Linked DNA regions of Homo sapiens. The protein of the gene in region 1 interacts with the protein of each later gene in a pairwise test. Each region holds a gene or a part of one and is shown on either strand. Other genes may lie near its edges. The genes, in order: ZNF439 and CLIC6.

Region 1 (4,580 bases):
TATTATGAGTGAAAGAAAAATTAGGGTTGAGGCTGGGCGCAGTGGCTCATGTCTGTAAATCCAGCACTTTGAGAGGCCGAGGCAGGAGGATCACAAGGTCCAGAGTTCGAGACCAGCCTGGCCAATATGGTGAAACCCCGTCTCTACTAAATAATACACATAATTAGCTGGGTGAAGTGGTGCATGCCTGTAGTCCCAGCTACTCAAAAGGCTGAAGAAGGAGAATTGTTCAAACCTGGGAAGCAGAGATTGCAGTGAGCCAAGATCACACCACTGCACTCCAGCCTGGGCAACAGAGTGAGGCTCTTTCTAAAAAAAAAAAAAAAAAAAAAAGAAAAAGAAAAAGCAAAAGGAAAAAAAAAGAAAAATTACAGTTGAAATAAAAATTAAAGTACATAAGCATGAAAAGTAAAGTTTACATGAGGAAAAATATGCCTGGCATTTAATCCAGGTAATGCTGATTCACAATATCCAAATAATAACAATGTAACATTATAAGCTTGATCTAATACATGACACCAATGGATATTTTATTATAGCTTCTTAATTATTTAAAAAGAATAACATTTGTTAGTATACAGTTATTATAAACAGTTAATTGTTTACATTCATTATTTGTATTCAAAGAATCCTAGCCGATCTGAAGGCTTTCCCATACTGCTTACATTCATAGAGTTTCTGCCAAGTGTGAGTGCTTCCATGCATTTGAAGTCTTGAGGCTGATCTGACGGCTTTCCCACATTGCTTACATTGATACGGTTTCTCCCCAGTGTGAGTCCTTTCATGATATTGAAAAGAACTGGAAGAAGTGAAAGCTTTTGCCACATTGCTTACATTCATAGGGTTTCCTTCTGGTGTGTCTTTACATGTCTATGAAAGCAATTAAGCAAGCTGAATGCTTTCCCACAATCCTTACATTCATACGGATTCTCTCTCGTATGAGTCCTTTCATGTATATGCAAGGAAGAAAAATAATTGAATGCTTGTTTGCATTCCTTACATTCATAGGTTTCTCTCCAGTGTGTGTTTTGCATGTATTCAAACGATCTTGGCAGATATGAATGCTTTCCCACAATGCTTACATTCTTAGGGCGCCTCTCCTCTGTGCAACTTTCATGTATTTGAAAAGAAGAGAAATTATGGAACGCTTTTCCACATTTCTTACATTCATAGGGTTTCTCTCCAGTGTGTGTCCTTTCATAAATTGAAAGGTTCTTGACAGATCTGAAGACTTTCCCACATTGCTTACACTCATAGAGTTTTTCTCCACTGTGAGTCCTTTTAGATATCGAAAGGAACTGGAACAATTAAGGCTTTACCACATTGCTTGCATTTATAGGGTTTCTCTCCAGTGTGAATTTTTTCATGTGTTTGAAATAACTTGGCAGAATAAAAGTGTTTCCCATATATCTTATATTTATAAGGTCTTTCTCCAGAGTGCATTCTTATGTGTTTGTGTCCTTTCATGAAATCGAAAGTTCTGGACATATCTGAAGGCTTTCCCACATTTCTTACATTCATAGGGTTTCTCTCCAGTGTGAATCCTACGATGGATTCGAAGTTGTGAGGCAGATCTGAAAGCTTTCCCACATTCCTTACATTGATACGGTTTCTCTCCAGTGTGAGTCCTACCATGCAATTGAAGATTTGGGGCAGATCTGAAGGCTTTCCCACATTGCTTACACTCATAGGGTTTCTCTCCAGTGTGAGTCCTTTCATGATATCGAAAGGAACCGGAACGAGTGAAGGCTTTACCACATTGCTTGCATTTATACGGTTTCTCTCCACTGTGAGTTTTTTCATGTCTTTGAAATGACTTGGCAGAATAAAAGCCTTTCCCACATGTCTTACATTCATAAGGTCTTTCTCCAGAGTGCATTCTTATGTGTGTTTGAAAACTTGTAAGAGAGGATAATGCTTTCCCACACTGCTTACATTCATAAAGTTTTTTCCTAGAGTGGGTCCTTTCATGTCTACGAACATAACGGGGACACATGAATGCTTTTCCACATTCCTTACATTGATAAGCCTTCTCTCCCATGTGACTCCTTTCATGTCTGTGACAGGATCTGGGACTATGGAATGCTTTCCCACATTCCTGACATTCATAAGGCTTTTCTCCAATGTGAGTTCTTTCATGTATTCGATGGGTAGCAGAATAACTAAAAGATTTACCACATTGTTTACATTCATACGGTTTCTCTCCAGTGTGAGTTCTTTCATGGATAAGATATAAACTGAGACAATGGAATGCTTTCCCACAAAACTTACATTTATAAGGTCCATCCCCACTGTGCACTACCATGTGTCTTTGAATGCTTGAATGGTAAATAATGTTTTTTCCACATTCTTTACAAGCATAGGGTTTCTTTCCAGTGTGATCCCTTTCTTGTGTTCTCAAGGAGGGGTGATATCTGAAGGCTTTTTTAGGTTGTTGACTCTTCCATGGCTTTGGTCCATATTCCTGACATTCACATGCCTTGTGTCCAGTGTCACCTCTGATGTTCATATTAGAAGATGAGTTACCTAGGCCAACTTCACACACAAAGCTGTCACATGATTTTACTTCAGGAGAAGCTTTCTTCTTCTGGAAGTTCAGCCTGTCATCTGGAACTGGGGTAAAAGTTTCTCCACAATGACTGTCTTCTTTAATTTCATTGACTTTCTCTTCTGTGACACTCCTGTCAAAAATGAGAAACAAATTATGAAGAGTTTGTTTATAAGTAATTTTATATTAATCAGCAAGTATTGTACTTGCATTTTTAACACTCTCCATCAAAGTGTAGGCTTTCTGCCCTGTCTGAATTGTTTGAAGGTGACTGGACAACACATTCTACAAGGTGACCTAGCCATACCTATTATTTAAAAAAATGTTTATATGGGGCTTCTTAATACTCTTCCCATGTAAACTATTTTAAAATACTAAATACTCTGTGTCATTTTTCTTTTGTTTCAGGGTCTTGTCCTGTTGCCCACCCTGGAGTGCAGTGGTATCATCATAGCTTACCACAGCCTTTAACTCCTGGGGGCTCAAGTGATCCTCATGTCCCTCATGTCTCAGCCTCCTGAGTAGCTGGGACTACGGATGCATACCACAATGCCCAGCTAATTTTTTGCTGTTGTTGATATGTGGTCTTGTTATGTTGCGCAGGCTGTTGTTGAACTGCTGGCCTCAAGCTATCCTCCTATCTCCATGTCTCAAAGGACTGGGATTACAGGAGTGAGCCCTCAGCCTTGATCACATTTAAATATATATTTTTAGATAAAATATTGTATGAATAAATGAACTTGATCCTGGACTTAGTTCTTTGTTTTACTTATTTTTAACATAGTCTCATATTCTAAGATCGTGTAGAGAGACACTGCTTTCTCTTATAAGTGCAAATTACCTGAAGTTTCTCCTGGGGTTTTGGTACTCATATTCAATGTTCTGGTCTTTCCACTTTTTTCCTAAAATACAAACACAGAAAAATAATCCTGAGGCAGTATAAAATTGTGAAAAAATTATTAGACCTATGCCCATGATTTACAGCAGCCATGCCTCATTTATTCATCAAAGTATTTCCTGTCTGTGTTCCAAATCACTCAACAGCATTGGTGAGCTAGAAACATTGGTAAACTAATGCACTGAGGGAAGGAATATTGTCATCCTTACCTATAGAGGTCAGGTTCCAGAAAGTTTCCAGCATCACTTCCCTGTAGAGATTCTTCTGGGAAATATCCAGCAAAGCCCACTCCTCCTGGGTGAAGTTCACAGCCACATCCTTAAAAGCCACTGGGTCCTGAAACATCTCACATGTGTAGAGGAGGATGGGTGAGAGTGACAGCATTGGGGGCCTAGACTCTATTCCCAAGAAGTTCTCAGGATGCCGTGGACTCCAAACATTTATTCCCTGCTTTGGTCATCAGATCCCTTTCTCTCTGTCTATACTTACTTTCTTCCATAAAGCAATTTTTTTTTTTATTTTTTTGAGACAGAATTTCACTCTTATTGCCCAGGCTGGAGTACAATGGTGCAATCTCGGCTCACTGCCGGGGTTCAAGTGCTTCTTCTGCCTCAGCCTCCCGAGTAGCTGGGATTACAGGCATGCACCAGCATACCCGGCTAATTTTGTATTTTTAGTAGAGACAGGGTTTCTCCATGTTGGTCAGGCTGGTCTCGAACTCCCAACCTCAGGTGATCCACCTGCCTCAGAGTCACAAAGTGCTAGGATTACAGGCATGAGCCACCACACCCAGACAGCAATTTTTTTTTTTTTTTTTTTTTTTTTTTTGTGATAGTGTATCGCTCTGTCAGCTGCTTGGGCTGTCCCTAATGTCTCCTTGGACTGTGGGTCTGTAGCACCTGTCATAACAGAGTACTATGAATTAATATGCAGAAAAAAGTTAACATTAGCAGTCCTGAAGCTGTGTATCCTTGAAAATGCCTGTTCCCAAAGTGTAATCTTTGATGACATTGTTAGAGAAGGCAGATATCTAGCCAAGAGCAGGAAGGGTAGCCCCTGGGAAATCCCACAACCCCAGGGACCACCCAAAACAGGCATGCTAGATATAAGCAGAGAGGAGGGGAGACACCTAAG
Region 2 (3,819 bases), on another chromosome or scaffold:
ATTTTTAGTAGATAGGGAGTTTCACCATGTTAGCCAGGATGGTCTCGATCTCCTGACTTCGTGACCTGCCCGCCTTGGCCTCCCAAAGTGCTGGGATTACAGGCGTGAGCCGCCATGCCTGGCCCGGGGACTCACATTTCTAAAAAGCTCCCCAGACAGTTTGTATGCCTACTAACATTGGAGAACCACGGGTCTGGCAGGTCTTTAAGCCCTAATAATACATGACTCATGGCTCTTAAATCATGTTCAGCTACTATATGGGAAGGCAGGGCAACAAATATGGCAGAGACTCAGCCAAAAGCTGCCAGCTGCTTCCTGGATGTTGAGGGTCAATGTTTTTTTAAAATAAATAAATAATTAATAACCTAATTGTTTTTAGAGATGGGGTCTCACTCTGTCACCCAGGCCAGAGTGCAGTGCCACCTCCTTAACTTGCTGCAGCCTCAGGTTCCTGGGCTCAAGTGATCCTCCAGCTTCAGCCTCCCATGTGGCTGGGACTACAGGCACACACCACCATGCCCAGCTAATTTTTTTTTTTTATTTTTTGTATAGATGGGGTCTCGCTATGTTGCCCTGGCTGGTCTTGAACTCCTGGCCTCAAGCAATCCTCCCACCTCAGCCTCCCAAATCACTGGGATTACAGGCATGAGCCACTGCACCTGGCCAAGGGTCACTGTTAAAAGCTAATAGAACACTCCTCTGTCATCCCTAGAAGGGGCCATGTGGAGCCCTACAATCACCAACAGTAGACTGCGTTCACATTTGAATAGCCCCAGATTCTACGAGCCTCATCTCTAATTCTCAATTGCTAACACCAGGTATAATCTACGAAATTCCTCAGGCTGCTTTCACATAACCTGTCTTTAGGCTGTGTGAGTAAGGCTGAGAGAGAAGCAGAAGGTGGGGCCATGTTCCCAGGCACTTTCTGAGAACACCCGAAGCCCATCTTCTGTGTGTGTGAAAGCTGGGGCTTGGCTGCCCCGAACAGAACTAGTGTTTTTAATCCAAGTCTCCACATTTCAGACTGTTTAAATGTCTGGCCCAAACACAAGTAAAAACAAAATAAAACAAAGCCCCGTTCGTGTACTCGGCACACGTGTCGGGAGGGAAGATGAACCTTAATAATATGGAGCTTGGGTAAGAGGTTGCAGTCAGCCAGCGTCAGCTCGTCCCCATCCAGAAACTTCCTTCCAGAAACAGTGACATCCTCGGTGCTGTAGGCATCTATTTCATCAGGCAGAGGGCTATTTAAGTAATTATCCAGCTTCCTCAGGGCCTTCAGCAGGTTCTTTTCATGAACTAAAACAGAAGGGCAAGAAATCACAAAGAGAGGTTTGCAAGTGCATGTCACTTTTCACCAGCTGTGATGGAGTTTGCTTCCCTTCCTCGCTGAGATGTGGCCAGCAAGCAATGGGTGCTGGGAAGGCAGCAGGTGGATGTAGAATATCTGAATAAAGGGCTCACTCCTCCCTGGAAAATCACACTGCTGTCTACACAATATTGCTCCTTCTAGAAGTGATTTATTTATTCAAAAATACTTATGGAAAGCCTGTGGGGAGACGTGGACTGGCAGAAACATCATTGAACATGATTCCCATGGTGTGTCCGGAACACCTGGGTGATGACTATTTTCCCTAAAAATGTTGTTTTCTGAGTTCCCAGCCTCAAAAGAAGCATTCATCTCTTGAAGCCCACGTGCAGATTCAAAGTTGGAGGCACTTTTTCTGTAGCTCCAGACTCACTTCTCTACCCACTGGGAAATAGATGGGAATACCCCAGGAGCGTATGGGCCGCCATGCTAAGACTCAAGTCTGTGTTGAAACAAAACAGGAGGATGGGAGGTACTCACTCTCATTTGCATCCTTCTTCGTGTTTTTTATAAACGCTGAGAATTTGGCAAACACGTCATTTCCTGCGGAATTAGATTCGGGATGTTGGGTCCCCAGCTTGGGATACCTTGAAAAGTTCAAAATTGGAGGATCACAGACAAGTGATGTTTTAGTGAAGATAATACTATACAATGGAGAAAAACAGCTTTCTCTGGGCATAAAAATGAAAAGCTTTCCTTCAACGTTTTCCTGACCCTTTTCCTCTCAAAGGTTGGGAAGTAACAACATCTAGGAGAATGGCACTGGACGGAGAGGTTTGGATTGTTGCTGTTTCCTGGCAGTGGCCAGTTCTGGGACACAGGACCCCACCTGGCCTTGCTGGTCTCAGGTGCTTCCCTAGTAAAACGAAGGGGATGGAGTAGAAATAGCTCCCCCGAGGTCCAAAAATCCATGATACTTCTTCCTAACACATACTCCATAGCTTCCAGCAGGGTGTCTAGGATACAGCCAACCACCCACCCTGGACCCATCTCCTCCCACTTCCTGCCATCAAACTGTGATTGCCAAGCTGCAGGTGCAGCACAATGAAACCCAGGTCCCCGAACTCTAATCTGGTTACACCAGGGTTATGATTAAGGAAGTGAGCACCGTGGGCTGCAGAAAACCACACACACACACACTGCCCAGAGCTTTAGAACTGACTACTAGTGGGGGAAAGTGACAATCAAGTTATGAACACTGGTTTTCTGAGGCCTACCTCGGGGGAGCTAATTTCTCCTCTAAGAACTCCTCGATCTTATTCACATCCGTCTTGACTTCACCATCAAAAGTCATGAAAGGAGGGTTTGTTCCGGGAGCCAGGTTCTGCAGGTCTGCGGGTTTCCTAGGTGGGAGGAAACAGCAGTGTTTATGGGCCACCGTGAGAATCTGGACTCATTTCCAGGGCTTAGCCGCGTCCTCACCAGTTTAAGAGAAGCAACTCTTGAGAACTGCAAAGTAGATGGTGGGTTTATGAAAATGTCTTGCTGGCGATGAAAGTAAAGGCATTCATTAACAAATGATGGGCTTGTTGAGGTGCCCCTTTGTGAATACGGAGCACAAAGGGGCATATCAACAAACAGAGGTGAAAAAGTTAACTCTCCCCAGTGTTATCAGCCAGGGATGGTGCTCAGACAGGCTTGGGAGAGTCACAGCTGACCAGCAACTGGAGAAGCAGGTTCTTCACGGCACCCCCAACTCCTCCTCCTTCCTGACTCCAGCCCAGCCGACCCTGTCATGACTGCTTGGCCCACATGTGGGCTTCAGTTCAGACTCCGACTGAGGATGGACGTGCCCATGCAGCACCGTTGGCCTCAGGTGTGTGTGTGTGTGTGTGTGTGTGTGTGTGTGCAGAGAACTAGGTACAGTTATTTCAGTAAGGCAGACGCCTTGTCTTACCTTTTCAGGTCCACTGTGGTCACATTAAATATAACGCCTTTCAGCCAGAGAATCATAAAGAGACGCTGAGAAAACGGGCAATTTCCGATACTCTCACCATCATAACCAGCCTACAAGTGGAGAAGGAGATTTCTATCTGAGCCAGTCTCACAATTATAAGTGCCAACACCACAACATGCACATGCAAAATCATTGCAGGTTGATAAGAACGGTCAGGATGCTGCGAATATCCTCCTGAGGCCATTTTACCAGCCTCAATGTGGAGTTGGCGGTGGATGTAGGGGTTAGGGGAGAGAACACCACACACGCACGCACATGCACATGTATGCACTGCACTGAGCATTTTCTTTCTTCCTTCCCCACCACCTCACCACTGCCTGCCACACTGGGCCTCTGAGCAGCAGCTCACTGATGGAAGGAGCAGCAATGGGAACTCCCTTTATCACCAATGTGAAAAAGAAAGACACGCCCTTTCCTTCCCTCTATCTCTCGATCCTCTCCAAGGATCAACTATTCTTAGCAGCTTTGGTATAATAGCTAAAACCTGGAAACA

The links.
Region 2: the proteins of ZNF439 (region 1) and CLIC6 interact in a two-hybrid assay, tested with the Homo sapiens proteins (one large-scale study listed by BioGRID and IntAct).

The regions. Positions count from the first base shown.
Region 1 is NC_000019.10:11,865,407-11,869,986, reverse strand, and holds the end of ZNF439 (zinc finger protein 439), read right to left. Parts: intron 4,346-4,580; exon of another isoform or gene 3,831-4,345; coding exon of another isoform or gene 3,783-3,830; coding exon 3,656-3,782; intron 3,451-3,655; coding exon 3,390-3,450; intron 2,682-3,389; coding exon 1,418-2,681; 3' UTR 501-1,417; downstream 1-500. UniProt on the Homo sapiens protein: May be involved in transcriptional regulation.
Region 2 is NC_000021.9:34,706,837-34,710,655, reverse strand, and holds part of CLIC6 (chloride intracellular channel protein 6), read right to left. Parts: intron 3,377-3,819; coding exon 3,267-3,376; intron 2,713-3,266; coding exon 2,587-2,712; intron 1,957-2,586; coding exon 1,850-1,956; intron 1,300-1,849; coding exon 1,118-1,299; intron 1-1,117. UniProt on the Homo sapiens protein: In the soluble state, catalyzes glutaredoxin-like thiol disulfide exchange reactions with reduced glutathione as electron donor. Can insert into membranes and form voltage-dependent chloride-selective channels.